4 linked regions of the Homo sapiens genome follow. The protein of the gene in region 1 purifies or fractionates together with the protein of each later gene. This does not show direct contact. Each region holds a gene or a part of one and is shown in the gene's direction. Other genes may lie near its edges.

What was found.
Region 2: the proteins of FBXW8 (region 1) and PPP2R2A purify together in Homo sapiens (affinity purification with mass spectrometry, with the first as the bait; one large-scale study listed by BioGRID). This does not show direct contact.
Region 3: the proteins of FBXW8 (region 1) and MAGEA10 purify together in Homo sapiens (affinity purification with mass spectrometry, with the first as the bait; one large-scale study listed by BioGRID). This does not show direct contact.
Region 4: the proteins of FBXW8 (region 1) and ATAD3A purify together in Homo sapiens (affinity purification with mass spectrometry, with the first as the bait; one large-scale study listed by BioGRID). This does not show direct contact.

Annotation. Positions count from the first base shown.
Region 1 is NC_000012.12:117,018,950-117,022,449, forward strand, and holds part of FBXW8 (F-box/WD repeat-containing protein 8), read left to right. Parts: intron 1-3,500. UniProt on the Homo sapiens protein: Substrate-recognition component of the Cul7-RING(FBXW8) ubiquitin ligase complex, which mediates the ubiquitination and subsequent proteasomal degradation of target proteins.
Region 2 is NC_000008.11:26,298,008-26,301,507, forward strand, and holds part of PPP2R2A (serine/threonine-protein phosphatase 2A 55 kDa regulatory subunit B alpha isoform), read left to right. Parts: intron 1-3,500. UniProt on the Homo sapiens protein: Substrate-recognition subunit of protein phosphatase 2A (PP2A) that plays a key role in cell cycle by controlling mitosis entry and exit. Involved in chromosome clustering during late mitosis by mediating dephosphorylation of MKI67.
Region 3 is NC_000023.11:152,135,778-152,139,993, reverse strand, and holds the start of MAGEA10 (melanoma-associated antigen 10), read left to right. Parts: upstream 1-1,416; 5' UTR 1,417-1,519; intron 1,520-3,024; 5' UTR 3,025-3,123; intron 3,124-3,913; exon of another isoform or gene 3,914-4,004; intron 4,005-4,159; 5' UTR 4,160-4,216. UniProt on the Homo sapiens protein: Not known, though may play a role in embryonal development and tumor transformation or aspects of tumor progression.
Region 4 is NC_000001.11:1,518,662-1,522,161, forward strand, and holds part of ATAD3A (ATPase family AAA domain-containing protein 3A), read left to right. Parts: intron 1-259; coding exon 260-329; intron 330-1,479; coding exon 1,480-1,645; intron 1,646-1,886; coding exon 1,887-1,956; intron 1,957-3,500. UniProt on the Homo sapiens protein: Essential for mitochondrial network organization, mitochondrial metabolism and cell growth at organism and cellular level. May play an important role in mitochondrial protein synthesis. May also participate in mitochondrial DNA replication.

The DNA of each region.
Region 1 (3,500 bases):
CACTGAAAAGTACTTGGTAAACACTTCCGCTCCCCCTTTCCCCAATCCTTTTCAAGTTCCCATTATGGACTAAGGTTAGAGTTCTCTTTACAGCATTTATACTTTTTCTCTTCTCTTACCTACGCATGCCTAAGGATAGGTGTCTGTAAACGTGACAGAGAGAGACCTTTGTTTACAAAGTCATCTTCAAGCTCTCTCTGCATCTTTCTGCTCCCAGATCCCTCACTGGCAAGTCAGGGACTGAGCAGCATTTGTAGCAACGGACCTATTATGTATCATCTATACATTATCATCTGTGTCCACTGGATGGACTTGTTATGGATCTCAGAATTTTGGATCTAGCAGACCTCTTCAAGACCATCTAATGCTGGTCCAGAAAGGTTCAGTGGCCAGTCCGAAGGGCTTGTTAATGTTGGCCACATAGAATTTTATGTTCTCTATACAGAGAACTCTCAACTTGTCCCTGGAATCGGTTGTCTTGGCATATTCTGGTGCCCATTTGCTGTGCTACCTGTTTCCCAGCGTTGAGTATATCTATTCACTTGGGTTGCCTTGTCAGTTACATGGCCTAGCAGGAAGAAGAAACAGTCTCTCCTCTGTGTCCTAAAACGACGTGTTGTTCCATCCTGTTTTATTTCACCTTTTCTAAGAAATAGATGAAAGTATTATTTTTTAATTATGAAACCGAACATATGTATGGGAGTGTATATAAGGTGCGCATACAGTTTCAAGAGTAACCGAGAATGCCCGCGCATCCACCTCTCAGCTCAAGAAAGAGAGTGTGACTGTTGAAGGCCTCCCGGTCATGAATGAATTCTTGTTTTTTAAACATGGCAGCGTCCAGAATAAAACACAAAAGCCGCCTTTATTGCCCTCTTTCTTCTCCAAGGTAATTGTTGTTAATGTTTCAAGTACGTGCTTCCAGAATTTGATCTTTAAAATTGTTTGGTTTTATTTAAACAGGAAGTACGCACATTCAAAATGGGCCTCAAAAGCAGAGTAGCCTAGAGGGCGAAGCGCACCCCTCTTCCCAGCAGCCTTGTCAGCCTCCCTCATTGCGACTGCTTAAATGCTGAGCGTTCTCTGGGGGCCGCCCACACACGCACAGCCTAAATGCATGTCCCCCAGCACACACCTGTGCGCACGGCTGCCAGTCAGCCTGTGTAGTTCTGCCCCGGGTCCCACTGTATGGATGTACCATAATTGCTTTAACTAGCACTCAGTTGAAGAGCTAGTTAATCGTGTCACCTACGTCATTCCAGTTCATGACAGCTAAAATGTGTCTGATTTTTCCTGTCAGTCTAATTATCTTTCCTTAATAGGTAATGTCTTTTTCTCTCAGGCTGCTTTTAGGACCTCTTGGTCTTTGTGTTTCCCCATTTTTTAAATTATACTCTTAGATATGTATTTTGTGTTTGATTCGTGTGCATTGAGTCGGCATGCATGTCTTTCATCAGTTCGGGAAACATCAGCTGTTAGCTGTCCGCACTCTGTTTTTCTCCTTCCGGAACTTGGGGCGTGTGGTGCACCACCCCTTCTGTCCCTCATGTCTCTTATACCCCCATTCGCAGTTTTCATATTTATCTCTTTGTGCTCCATTCTTGGTAATTTCTTCACATTTTTCTTCTGATTCACGCATTCTCTGATCTGCTTCCAGCCTATCTCCCAAATTTAATTTCAGGGACTATACTTTCATGCTTTTGTATTGAAAGCAGGAGTCTCCATACTCCGCTCCCTGCCTAGGGTGGCCCTTCAGTGTGTTTGATGAAACCACGGAGCTGAGCCTGGCGCTTGCCAGCAGCCTCCCCTCCCCTGAAGTCGCAGCTCACCCTCTCCTGTCTGGTTTTCAGCTCAGGTCCTGGGGAAGTCACTTCCTACGTGAGCTCAGCAGTGCCCTTAAAAGGATTTTATCCAGCATTTTTAAGCGTTTTACAGTGGAACTGTCAACATGTTGTCTGAAACAGAAGCCTCTTTTGCAACTAAGAGCAGTGACTGGCCTTGCGTGTATGTGGACTCTTGTGTAGCTACCTCCTCGAAGTGGAATTGCCGGCTCAGAAGTGAGGTGCATGTGGTATTTGGTTGGATATTGCCAAGTCACTCCCCAGAGAAGGATTTCTGCTCGCCTCAGCTGTCTAGGAGTACCTACCTGTCCATGTCTCCCTGCCACACAGTGCCTCGTAGGGCATGTTACCAAACTTTACCTTTGCTGGGTAGATTGGTGACAAGTGGCATTGCATTGTAGTTTTACTGTGTAATTTATCTGATTACCAGCAAACTTAAACATCTTACACATGTTTAAAAGCCATTAGTATTTTTCTGTGAATTGCTTTTTCTTATCTTTTCTGTCGATTTAATAATGGGTTGTCAGTCTTTACTAATTTGAAGGCATTTATTATAAGACATTAGCCCTTTTTGTTGCAAACATTTTCCTCAGTTTATCATTGGACTGACTTTCTGATTGTTCCCCCCAATAGGAAAAAGTTAAACCCTTTTTTCACCTTCCATATTTTGTTATGTTTAGAAAGGTCTTCCTCCTTTGAATATGTTTTATAGTTTATGTTTAACTCTTTGCGCTCTCTGTAATTTGTGTAATATATGTGATTGATAGAGCTCCAAGTTGAGAAAATTATTATAGAGTATTTTGCCTCTAACTGCTGTTACAAATGGGACATTTTCTTTGATTCTATTTATTTTTAAACTAGATTTTAGCATATAAATTTATATTTGACTCTGTGTTACTGAATTCTCTGGGACTGTCCCTTCTCACTGATAAGAAGTCTACCCACTTCTTTCCGATTTTTTTTAACCTTTCATTTTTTCCTTTTGTCTAATTGTGTCTGGTTTTTAAAAAGCGATGTGAAGTAATGGTGGTGCCAGTGCCTCACTGTTTCTAAAGACCACATCTGGAATGGCTGTGACGTTTCATCCCGTTGCTTTCGGCTTCCATGGACGTGACTGCCTGGTTTTTCGTTGATTCCCCTTGTCTGTGGCATCTTGCTGTGGAGTCTGTTCCTGATGTTTCACTCGGATATGTAGTTTTCTTTGATCATGCTCTCAGGGTTAGGCTTTGGTAATAGAATGCTGGCTTCATGGAGAATTTGGAAGCTTTCCTCCTTTTCCTAGGCTGTGGAACAGTTAACTTAGCCCTGGAGGCAGCTGGTCCTTAACAGGTCTGGCCAAAGTCACTTGTTCTTTTTTTGCAGGGATTGTTGCCCCTTGCTGGCTTCCTCAGGCTGCTATTTGTTATTTTATCTACTTGGATTTTCTGTCTCCTGGGGATTCGTTTTGATAATTCTTATTTTCCCAGAAAGCCATTTACTCATCTAAGTTTTCAGATTTGGAGATTTTAAAAATTCAAGAAATAGAAATAATTTCTGAATAGATTATAGTGACTAAAGAAACTATTAAAAAAAAAAAAAAACAGGCTGGGTGCAATGGCACATGCCTGTAATCCCGGCACTTTAGGAGGCTGAGGTGGGTAGATCCCTTGGCCCAGGAGT
Region 2 (3,500 bases), on another chromosome or scaffold:
TGAAGTAAAAGGAAAAAAACATACTGTAAAAAGTACTATAAAAGTCAGTATAGTGGCTACCCTTAAGCTGTTGGAAAGGAGTTGTGATCGGGAAGGGCTGGGGAGGCCCTTGTGGGCTATCTTGACTGGGATGGTGGTTGTACAGATGTTTGTAAAGAGTAACCTGGACATTTTTGTTTCAATTTTTGGTTTTCTTTATCTGTTACATTTTACAGTAAGAAGTTTTTGGAAATCTAATAATGTATTAAAGGGTTTAGGATGAAAAATGGCAGTCCCCTACCTCCCCACTCCTTAATCCCTAGTCCATCTCCTAAGAGCAGTTGTTCAACTCTTCCGCTGGGTTCCTTGGTGCTTCATTTCCTTTTTGGGAATAAAATGGTATTTCTATATCTTGTCAATTTTAGTATTTCCAGCTGACTTGCTCCTCTAGTAGATGATAACTAAGCTATTCACATTATCACCCCCATTTCTGTCCCCATTGTGCCCCGATGTTACATCACACACTATGATTAAATTGGACGTCAGTGCTTAAATTGTTATGACCACGCACACATTCTCTGCTGAACCAGTAGTGCTCTGCAGTGTTTATTTCATCCTCAAGGTAATACAGTAATTGCTTGTTTGTTAATTTGACTATTTGGTTTTTTAAAAAACGTAATCAATCTGGAACATTACAGAAAGTATGTGGAATAGTATAATGAACCCCTGTCACCCGGCGTTGTCAATGGCCAGTGTTGCCCCATGTATGGTTCCATCACTGGACCCTTTCCCATCCTTTTGTTATTTAATAATGTAATACTTGTTTTTAAAATCTGAATTTAACAAAATAGAAAGCCAAGTTCATTTCTTAAAGTCGAACAGTAAGAAATTTTTTCTAATGATTTTGATAATGTGTTTAAATTTTACTTGTGGAAATAAATTATTAAAAATTCAAATACATGTGGATAATCTGAAGTGTGTAATAATTGGTCAAAATAATAGAACAGGCCAGGTGCAGTGGCTCACGCCTGTAATCCCAGCACTTTGGGAGGCCAGGCGAGAGGATCTCTTGAATCCAGGAGTCTGAGACCAGCCTGGACAACATAGTGAGACCTTTTCTCTACAAAAATTAAAAATATTAGCAGGGCATGGCAGTGTGCAACTGTAGTCCCAGCTACTAAGGAGGCTGAGACTTGAGCCTGAGAGGTCTGCTACAGTTAGGCTGTGATTGTGCCACTGGTCTCCAGCCTGGACAATAGAGTAAGACTCTGTTTCAAAAAAAAAAAAGGAACAACTTAACCATTCAAGATAGTTATTTTAATTATTTTAATGTAGATTTTTCATTGTTTAGTAATCTTAAAATATCAGATGTTATTAAATATTTAATAATGAACCTCATCTGCATATTTGATAGTCTTAAACTTTCACAGGAAATTATTTTAGGATATTATCTTATAAAGTCTTATTTTATGAAACTTGGATCCAAGTACATTGTGTGTTTTCAACTCTTTGCTTTCTGTTTACTTTTGGTAGGATTTAGCCTTGTGGACTGGGTCTTGAAAAAATATTTTTTAAATGGTAGAGGCTAAAATATGCCCCAAATAAGGACATAAGTAAAAATTTGAAAAACAGTCCATATTATGATATCTCACACAATTTAATGGTTTTAGTCCATTCCATATGTTTAATGCTATAATGTAAACAATTTAAAATCATTTCTCTTCTGCATCTCTTTTTTTTTTTTTTGTTAGAGACAAGGTCTTGCTGTGTTGCCCAGGCCGTCTTCTGTGTTTCTTAGAGTAGTATGCATGTTAGATTTAGGCAGTAAGGTAAGTTAGTAGAAAAAGTAGAACCCTGTTGTTTTGTGGATTTAAAAATAGTGGCACATTAGCTGTATTCCGAAACCTAATGACCTATGGTAAAGGTCTTATTTAATATCCTTACCTTGTATGACATGTGACACTTCTTTTTCTTAACACTAGCATTACTACTGAAGTCTAGTAGACCTCACTCAGTACAGTCACTTAAAGTAGTAGTGTAAGTTTACCCATTAAATACCATGAATGATAGTATCTGTTTAGCATCAAATAGTTTTCTTGCTTTGTTTTAAAATACTAAGTTTTTTCACATTCATTTGACAAAAAATTATGAGAGAGAATGGCCATTGAAAACATATTGCTGACATTTTGTCATGTTATTAAAATAAAACAAAAATTAGCCTTAGGTGTTTCTTAGTACTCTGTAATAGTGAACAAAATATTAAAATCAAGTTCTTGAAAATTGTGGAATAAGCAGAATGATGAGAGGTTGAAGCAAAAATGTATTAAATCAGTGAAGAGGTTACAGTATGTTACGTATTTGCATATAAGTGTTTGCCTAGTTTATCTTAAAGTTGATTGTAGGAAGAAAGGTACGTTTCTTAATGCTGTTAAATAGGAAAACTGAAGGATTGGAAATAGCTAAAAAATTTTAGTTAATATCCTCAACTGTAATCTCGTTGCCCTTTAAGGTGATGATGGAATTTGTAATTAAGTAATCAAGTATCCATAAGGTGCTTCCTCAGCAGACAGAAAGAAAAGTAAAAGCTGGCGGGGCGCGGTGGCTCACGCCTGTAATCCCAGCACTTTGGGAGACGGAGGCAGGCAGATCACGAGGTCAGGAGTTTGAGACCAGCCTGGCCAATATGGTGAAACACTGTCTCTACTAAAAATACAAAAATTAGCCGGGTGTGGTGGTGCGCGCCTGTTGTCCCAGCTACTCAGGCTGAGGCAGAAGAATTGCTTGAACCTGGGAGGTGGAGGTTGCAGTGAGCCGAGATCGTGCCACTGCACTCCAGCCTGGGCAACAGAGCAAGACTCCATCTCAAAAAAGAAAAGAAAAGAAAAAGCCTAGGTGCAAATTAGATTTTCTATAAATAAACTGCTATATAGTCATTGTAAGGAAGGCATGGCATGGCCATCTTGAGTACCTACATTTTTTGAGTGCTTAACTATGTATCAGGCATTGTTTTAGGTCCTTTACATCTATTTATTTACTGTTCTTCACAAATACCCTGTGAAATAAGTAGATACTGGTGGGAAAGTTAATTAACTGTATAATCTTGAGCAGGTGGTGAAGCTGGGATTCTTACCTTAGACCTTTCACTTTTCCTAATATAATTTTATTTCAAAACTTAATCTCCTTTTAGTTCAGGTGAAGGCGTTTGATGTTGAACTGCAACTCCTGTTTATAACAAGGTTTATTTGTAATGCCTAGTAGATACTTTTTATTTTGAAGTAATTAAATATAATTTGGAGATTTGTTGAATTTTCAGCTAATGCCATTCTTTTTTTTTTCCTTTTTCTTTTTTTTGTTTTTTTTTTTTGAGACGGGGTCTTGCTCTGTCATCCTGGCTGGAGTGCAATGGCGTGATCATGGCTCACTGCAGCCTCAACCTCCCAGGCTCAAGCGATCCTCCTGCCCCAGCCTCCTGAGTAGCTGGGACTACAGGCACAGGCCACCACGCCCGGCTAGTTTTTAAA
Region 3 (4,216 bases), on another chromosome or scaffold:
ACATTATCAACACTCAACAAATTCTACACAGCAAAACATGATAGAACCCTAAGCAGACTGCAGAATTTCGAATTGGACCTTGTGTTTGGAGTAGGGGGAGTGGAGGACAACAGTGCATTTGCGGAGGTCCGCAGCCTGCATAGACGGCAAATAAGAGGACGAGTAGGAAGAAATATTTGAATTTCTGGCCCTGCTTTATTGCACAATCTGAGGCAACACTTCATACCACGATGCCAGTAGCCCAGTAGCTCTGGAGTGATATCAGGACAGCAGGAAAGACGGGGTTGATTGAGGGAGTATGACTCCGGAGTCTATGCTGCTAACCACCTAAAACCACCACAGTGACGACTGGTCTTAGTTGATCCTCTGCTACAAGTTAATAATTCTTTATATTAAATTTTCTTGCTCAGAAAAAAAGAGAAAAATTATTATAATAGAATATAAAGAATAGACCAGAAATAGAATAAGCAGTGAACCACACAGCGTAAGGTAGGTATTCTTTCATGAAATGTTATATATGTATTCAATATACACTTGGCAGACATTTAAAACACATATTTTTACTAGGAATGAGGGTTAGAAAACCAGACATCACTGCATTGGACTATAAAATATCAGCTAAACTCAAAACAGCAGGACCTCTCCACACCCCGATGCTCAGCCTCTTTCTTGTAGAAAATATACCCTTTAGGACAAAAAGTTTGCCAAGTCTACTTGTGGCTTGGGAAGAGCCCCGTTGGGAAGGTGTGCGTCTTCTCCCATAGGTCATTACAATCACGGGTGTTGCAGCTCCCCAGGGACCATCTGGCCTGGGAACCGCACCCATGCTCTGCAAGGGATGCAGCTGGGCAAATGATCAGAGGTGACGGAAACTGAGCATCTCCCACCCATCACTTCATCAAAGAGACAAAAGCCAGGAGGAAGACCCTCCTGAGTGAGGACCGAGGGTCCACCCACCCCTCACAAAGGGGCCACAGAATCCAGCTGAGCCCCTCTTGTCAGCCCTGGAAGACCCTGGCAATGTTGTCACCCCTACCACAACCCTCCCCTCACTGCCACCTTGGAAGACTCCGAGTCAAGAGACCTGGTTTAAGGGGAGAAGACATCCTCAGCACAAAACAGGGGTCCAGGCTTTTCCAGGCATCAAGGTCGAGACACTGAGGGATGACTGAAAGACCCCACCCCCACCCCCACCACGACCCACAGCCCCAAGATCCCCATCCCAGTTCCCACCTCCACGCCCCTCCCCACACTCATCTTCACCACCACCCCTGCCCCAACCCCATCCTCACCCGTACCCCACCCCACCCGGACTCCCACCCTCACTCCCACCCCAACTCCCACCCCAGTTCCGGCAGAATCCACTCCGCCCCTGCTGTCAACCCAGGGAAGCCCCGGGGACCGGATGTGACGCCACTAACTTACGCCTCGGGGATCAGAGAGAAGCGAGGTTCTCGTTCTGAGGGACAGGCTTGAGATCGGCTGAAGAGAGCGGGCCCAGGCTCTGTGAGGAGGCAAGGTGAGAGGCTGAGGGAGGACTGAGGACGCCCCCAACCCAGATAGAAAGCCCTAAATAATACAGCGCTGCCTCTGCTGCCAGCTCTGGACCACCTGAGGGCAGACTTCTCAGGCTGGGCTGTCACCCCCCCCCCACCCCCGCCCCCACTCTCTCCCGCCGCTTAAGCCGCAGGGGACTCTGGGAGTCAGAGCTTGGTGTGACCAGGGCCCGGCTGGTTCGGCGGGAGCCGCGCCTAGGTTCTGCCAGCATCAATGTCGGGACGCTCAGGGAGGGCTCTGCCCCTGATGTCGGCCCTGGGAAGCCCTGGTCATGGCGACCAGGAACGCAAATTCTGACGTCGGCATCTGAGGCTGACGTAGGGAAGGGGATATTGGTACCAAGAATGCGGCTTCAGGGGAGCAGAGGGAAGGCCCGGGCCCTGCTGGGAAATGAGGGAGGCATGAAGGGATCCCAGGACAGGGTGCCCACCCCACCTCTGTCTCAGACCGAGATGTCTCTTCACTCGGCCTGAGGAATCCAAGGGACGGTGACTCAGGTCTGCGGCGGGGCGTGGTAGAGGAGAACAACCCAGCCAAGAGTCAAGGGGAGGAAGAAGAGAAAGGACTCAAGGGACCTTGGAGTCCAGATCAGTGGGGACCTCAGCCCTGGGTGGTTTCAGGCACGGTGGCCCATGTGATGTGTCTTTGCTGTGCCTTTGGGGTGTCAATGAGGAGAGGGCTATGGTCTGAGGAGTGGAGCCTCAGGTCAGCAGAGGGAGGAGTCCCAGAGCCCTGAGGGAGGACTCAGCAGATCCCCGCATCTCAGAACTAGGAAATCTGTCCCTCTTATCAGCTCTGGAACCCCAGGCAGGACGGTGAGGAAGAGAAGTGGCCCCCACTTTCTCACCGGGGATCCCAGGGAGATGGTGGCTTTGGCGTGCAAGACCCATACACGATTCAGCAGGAGGGAAAGGGCTGGGCCCTGTCGGGAGTAAATCTGAATACCTGGAGGACACCCAAATAAAGGAAGTCCCCGTCTTGTCCCCCTCCCCTGCCCACCACCCCCCCCCCCCCCCCCGCCAAATGTCTGCTCCTTCTGTCAGCTTTGGGAATCCCATGCAGGTGTGATCGTGTGGTGCCCCTCCCCACTTCTGCCTGCCGGGTCTCAGGGAGGTGAGGACCTTGGTCTGAGGGTTGCTAAGAAGTTATTACAGGGTTCCACACTTGGTCAACAGAGGGAGGAGTCCCAGAATCTGCAGGACCCAAGGGGTGCCCCCTTAGTGAGGACTGGAGGTACCTGCAGCCCAGAAAGAAGGGATGTCACAGAGTCTGGCTGTCCCCTGTTCTTAGCTCTGAGGGGACCTGATCAGGATTGGCACTAAGTGGCAAGCTCAATTTTACCACAGGCAGGAAGATGAGGAACCCTCAGGGAAATGGAGTTTTGGTGTAAAGGGGAGATATCAGCCCTGGACACCCCACAGGGATGACAGGATGTGGCTCCTTCTTACTTTTGTTTTGGAATCTCAGGGAGGTGAGAACCTTGCTCTCAGAGGGTGACTCAAGTCAACACAGGGAACCCCTCTTTTCTACAGACACAGTGGGTCGCAGGATCTGACAAGAGTCCAGGTAAGGAACCTGAGGGAAATCTGAGGGTACCCCCAGCCCATAACACAGATGGGGTCCCCACAGAAATCTGCCATGACCCTACTGTCACTCTGGAGAACCCAGTCAGGGCTGTCCGCTGAGTCTCCCTGTCTTATACAAGGATCACTGGTCTCTGGGAGGGAGAGGTGTTGGTCTAAGGGAGCTGCACTCGGGTCAGCAGAGGGAGGGTCCCAGACCCTGCCAGGAGTCAAGGTGAGGACTGAGGGGACACCATTCTCCAAACGCACAGGACTCAGCCCCACCCTACCCCTTCTGTCAGCCACGGGAATTCATGGGGAACTGGGGGTAGATGGACTCCCCTCACTTCCTCTTTCCATGTCTCCTGGAGGTAGGACCTTGGTTTAAGGAAGTGGCCTCAGATCAACAAAGGGAGGGTCCCAGGTCGTATCAGGCATCAAGAAGAGGACCAAGCAGGCTCCTCACCCCAGTACACATGGACCCAGCTGAATATGGCCACCTCTTGCTGTCTTTTCTGGGAGGACCTCTGCAGTTGTGGCCAGATGTGGGTCCCCTCATGTCTTCTATTTCGTATCAGGGATGTAAGCTTTTGATCTGAGAGTTTCTTAGACCAGCAAAGGAGCAGGGTCTAGGCTTTTCCAGGAGAAAGGTGAGAGCCCCACGTGAGCACAGAGGCTCCCCACCCCAGGGTAGTGGGGAACTCACAGAGTCCAGCCCACCCTCCTGACAACACTGGGAGGCTGGGGCTGTGCTTGCAGCCTGAACCCTGAGGGCCCCTCAATTCCTCTTTCAGGAGCTCCAGGGACTGTGAGGTGAGGCCTTGGTCTAAGGCAGTGTTTTCAGGTCACAGAGCAGAAAGGGCCCAGACAGTGCCAGGAGTCAAGGTGAGGTGCATGCCCTGAATGTGTACCAAGGGCCCCACCTGCTCCAGGACAAAGTGGACCCCACTGCATCAGCTCCACCTACCCTACTGTCAGTCCTGGAGCCTTGGCCTCTGCCGGCTGCATCCTGAGGAGCCATCTCTCACTTCCTTCTTCAGGTTCTCAGGGGACAGGGAGAGCAAGAGGTCAAGAGCTGTGGGACACCACAGAGCAGC
Region 4 (3,500 bases), on another chromosome or scaffold:
CGGGTACACACACACACACACACACACACCCAAACGGGTGCACAACCCACCCACACATGGGCACAATCACCCCCACACACATGGGCACAGTCACCCGCCTGCACATTCGGGCACCGTCACCCCCCGCAAACGGGCACCGTCACACCCCGCAAACGGGCACACTCACCCCCCTGCACACTCGGGCACAGTCATCCCCCGCACACATGGGCACAGTCACAGGTTTTAAAGGCTTTTCTCTTTTTCTGCGGCTTCTTCTCAGCAACTTCTCAATGAGGAGAATTTACGGAAGCAGGAGGAGTCCGTGCAGAAGCAGGAAGCCATGCGGCGAGGTAGGCTGTCTGCTCTCCTGGCTGGGGCGGAGGTGGCGGGGGCTGCTTGTGGACCCGGCGTGCACTCTGAGCCTGAGTTCTGCCGCCCGGCCCCTCATAGCTACCAGTGCAGTGGGCGAGGCCTGCTGGGGCTCCGCGGGGTGGGGCTGCCTCTCGGAAGACACCTCTGTCTGCGAGTGGACGCCAGGATCTGTTCAGGGAGGGCAGGAGCTGCTTCACTTCATGGGAAGTACAGGGGCCTTTTTTTTTTTTTTGAGACGGAGTCTCGCTCTGTCACCCAGGCAGGAGTGCAATAGCACGATCTCAGCTCACTGCAACCTCTGCCTCCCAGGTTTAAGCAATTCTCCTGCCTCAGCCTCCCGAGTAGCTGGGATTATAGGCTCCCGCCACCACGCCCAGCTAATTTTTTTGTATCTTCAGTAGAGAAAGGGTTTCACTGTGTTGGCCAGGCTGGTCTTGAACTTCTTGATCTCATTATCCGCCTGCCTTGGCCTTCCACAGTGCTGGGATTACAGGCGTGAGCCTCTGCGTTCTGCCTAGAACATGGGTCTTTACTGTCCTGGTTTCAGTGGGGATCACAGGTATTTGGTGCCATGTGGCATTTGTTGGCGAGTGCTCCAGGCAAACGTCTGTCACCACTCTTCACCGTGGGTGGGCTTGTGGCGAGGTGTGTGCGTTTAATGTTCAGTAGCCAGGCACGTGGCACGTCACGCGTGTCTGAGTTCTGACAGCTGTGTTTCTGTGTGAGGGGGGCTTCCTTCAGAACTCCGCGTTCTGGTTTTTTGCTTCAAAGAGCTCGTCCTGAGAAGTTGCCTAGGCCTCTGGGTCGGATTTCTGCCCTAATCCATGGGCAGGGCCGGCCTGTGGCGCTGTCCCTACCAAGGTCTGTGTGTGTCTGTGGCATGGACCTGTCCGTGGCCTTAGCCTATTGGCGGCGTGGGCCTGTCTGTGGCGTGGGCCTGTCCGTGGCCTTAGCCTGTCAGCAGTGTGGGCCTGTCCATGGCGTGGGCCGGTCCGTGGCATGGGCCTGTCTGTGGCGTTGGTCTGTCCGTGGCGTGGGCCGGTCCGTGGCGTGGGCCGGTCCACAGTGTGGGTGGAGGTGGACGCGCTGCACTGCATGGTGCTGAGCTGCCCTGCCTCTCTGGGGCAGCCACCGTGGAGCGGGAGATGGAGCTGCGGCACAAGAATGAGATGCTGCGAGTGGAGGCCGAGGCCCGGGCGCGCGCCAAGGCCGAGCGGGAGAATGCAGACATCATCCGCGAGCAGATCCGCCTGAAGGCGGCCGAGCACCGTCAGACCGTCTTGGAGTCCATCAGGTGAGCACTGCCGAGGCCCGGGCCGGCCACAGATGGAGCCCCGCAGGTGTGAGTCGCTGGTCCCAGGGCGCTCTCCAGCTCTTCCAGGCCTTGCCGCCGTAGGCTGACTCCTTGGTGGGGGCACTGCCCCTCTGTCCTGGCAAGGCCGTGCCGCCATGTCAGGGCCTCACCCTCAACCTGCTCTCGCTGCGTGGCACGGATCTTCGTGTCCTTCCTGGTCACACCACTGCTTTCCCCGCAGGACGGCTGGCACCTTGTTTGGGGAAGGATTCCGTGCCTTTGTGACAGACTGGGACAAAGTGACAGCCACGGTAAACATACTCATAAAACAGGGCTGGCAGGTGGCTGAGGGGCAGCATGTGGGGGCCTCCTGGAGCCCCAGGTCCTGTCCCTGCCGGCTCTGCACAGCCCTGTAGCTCTCCCAGCAGGGAGGAAGCCCACGTTGTACCTGCTGGCCTCGGCTTCTCCTCCCTTCTCAAGCTGGGAGAAGAAAACGCAGTTGCCAGCCTGGGCCACACAGTGAGACCCCATCTCTACAAAAAATCAAATATTAGCTGGGTGTGGTGGCAGCCCCTGTGGTCCCACTACTCAAGAGGCTGAGGTAGGAGGATCACTTAAGCCCAGGGAGGTTGCAGCTGCACTGAGCTGAGATCGCAGCACTGCACTCCATCCTGGGCGACAAAGTCCTTGTCTCAAGAAAAAAATTGTCGATAGTCGTGGCTCACACCTGTAATCCCAGCACTTTGGGAGGCAGAGGCAGAGGCGGGCGGATCACGATATCGGGATCGAGACCATCCTGGCTAACACGGTGAAACCCCGTCTCTACTAAAAAAATACAAAAAATTAGCCGGGCGCAGTGGCGGGCGCCTATAGTCCCAGCTACTCAAGAGGCTGAGGCAGGAGAATCACCTGAACCCGGGAGGCGGAGCTTGCAGTGAGTCGAGATCACGCTACTGCACTCCAGCCTGGGCCACATAGTGAGGCTTCTTCTCAAAAAAAAAAAAAAAAAAAAAAAAAAAAAAACCAGAAGGCAACCCTGACTCCATTTTGCAAAAACCTTCTTTATTCCTTATAAAACCCTGAGAGTTTGAAGTTCACAGATTCTTCTCTCGTTTAAAGCCTCACTCTTTTGTGCCCAGCCTCCGGCCTGCTGTGGTGGCGCCCCACGTCCCACATGGCTGTGTCCTCCGTCCCCACCCCGCCCAGCACACGGTAGGTGCCCGGCACTGAGTGGGCACTTGCTCTGCCGTGGTGCCGGCGCCCAGAGCTGTGACTGCAGCGCCTGCCGGTGGCCTGGTCAGTGTGACGGTGAATGTTGCAGGTGGTGTTGCCACCATGTTGGTGAGACCGTGTCACGTGAGGACATGACGGAGCTGCTTAATGCGCCGATGACTTTTGTTTGTTTGTTTTTAGAGACAGGGTCTTGCTCTGTGGTCAGACTGGAGTGCAATGGTGCCATCTCGGCTCACTGCAACCTCCACCTCCCCAGTTCAAGCAGTTCTCCTGCCTCAGCCTCCCAAGTGACTGGGATTACAGGCTCACGTCACCACACTCAGCTAATATAGGCCTGTGCCACCAGGCCCGGCCAATTTTTGTATTTTTAGTAGAGATGGGTTTTCACCATGTTGGCCAGGCTGGTCACGAACTTCTGACCTTAAGTGATCCAGCCGTCTTGGCCTCCCAAAGTGCTGGGATTACACGGGTGAGCCACCGGGCCTGGCCTAATTCATTTTTTGTTTGTTTGTTTTTTGAGACAGAGTTTTGCTCTTGTTGCATAGGCTGGAGTGTAGTGGCGCGGGTCCAGCTCATTGCAACCTTTGCCTTCCGGGTTCAAGAGATTCTCCTGCCTCAGCCT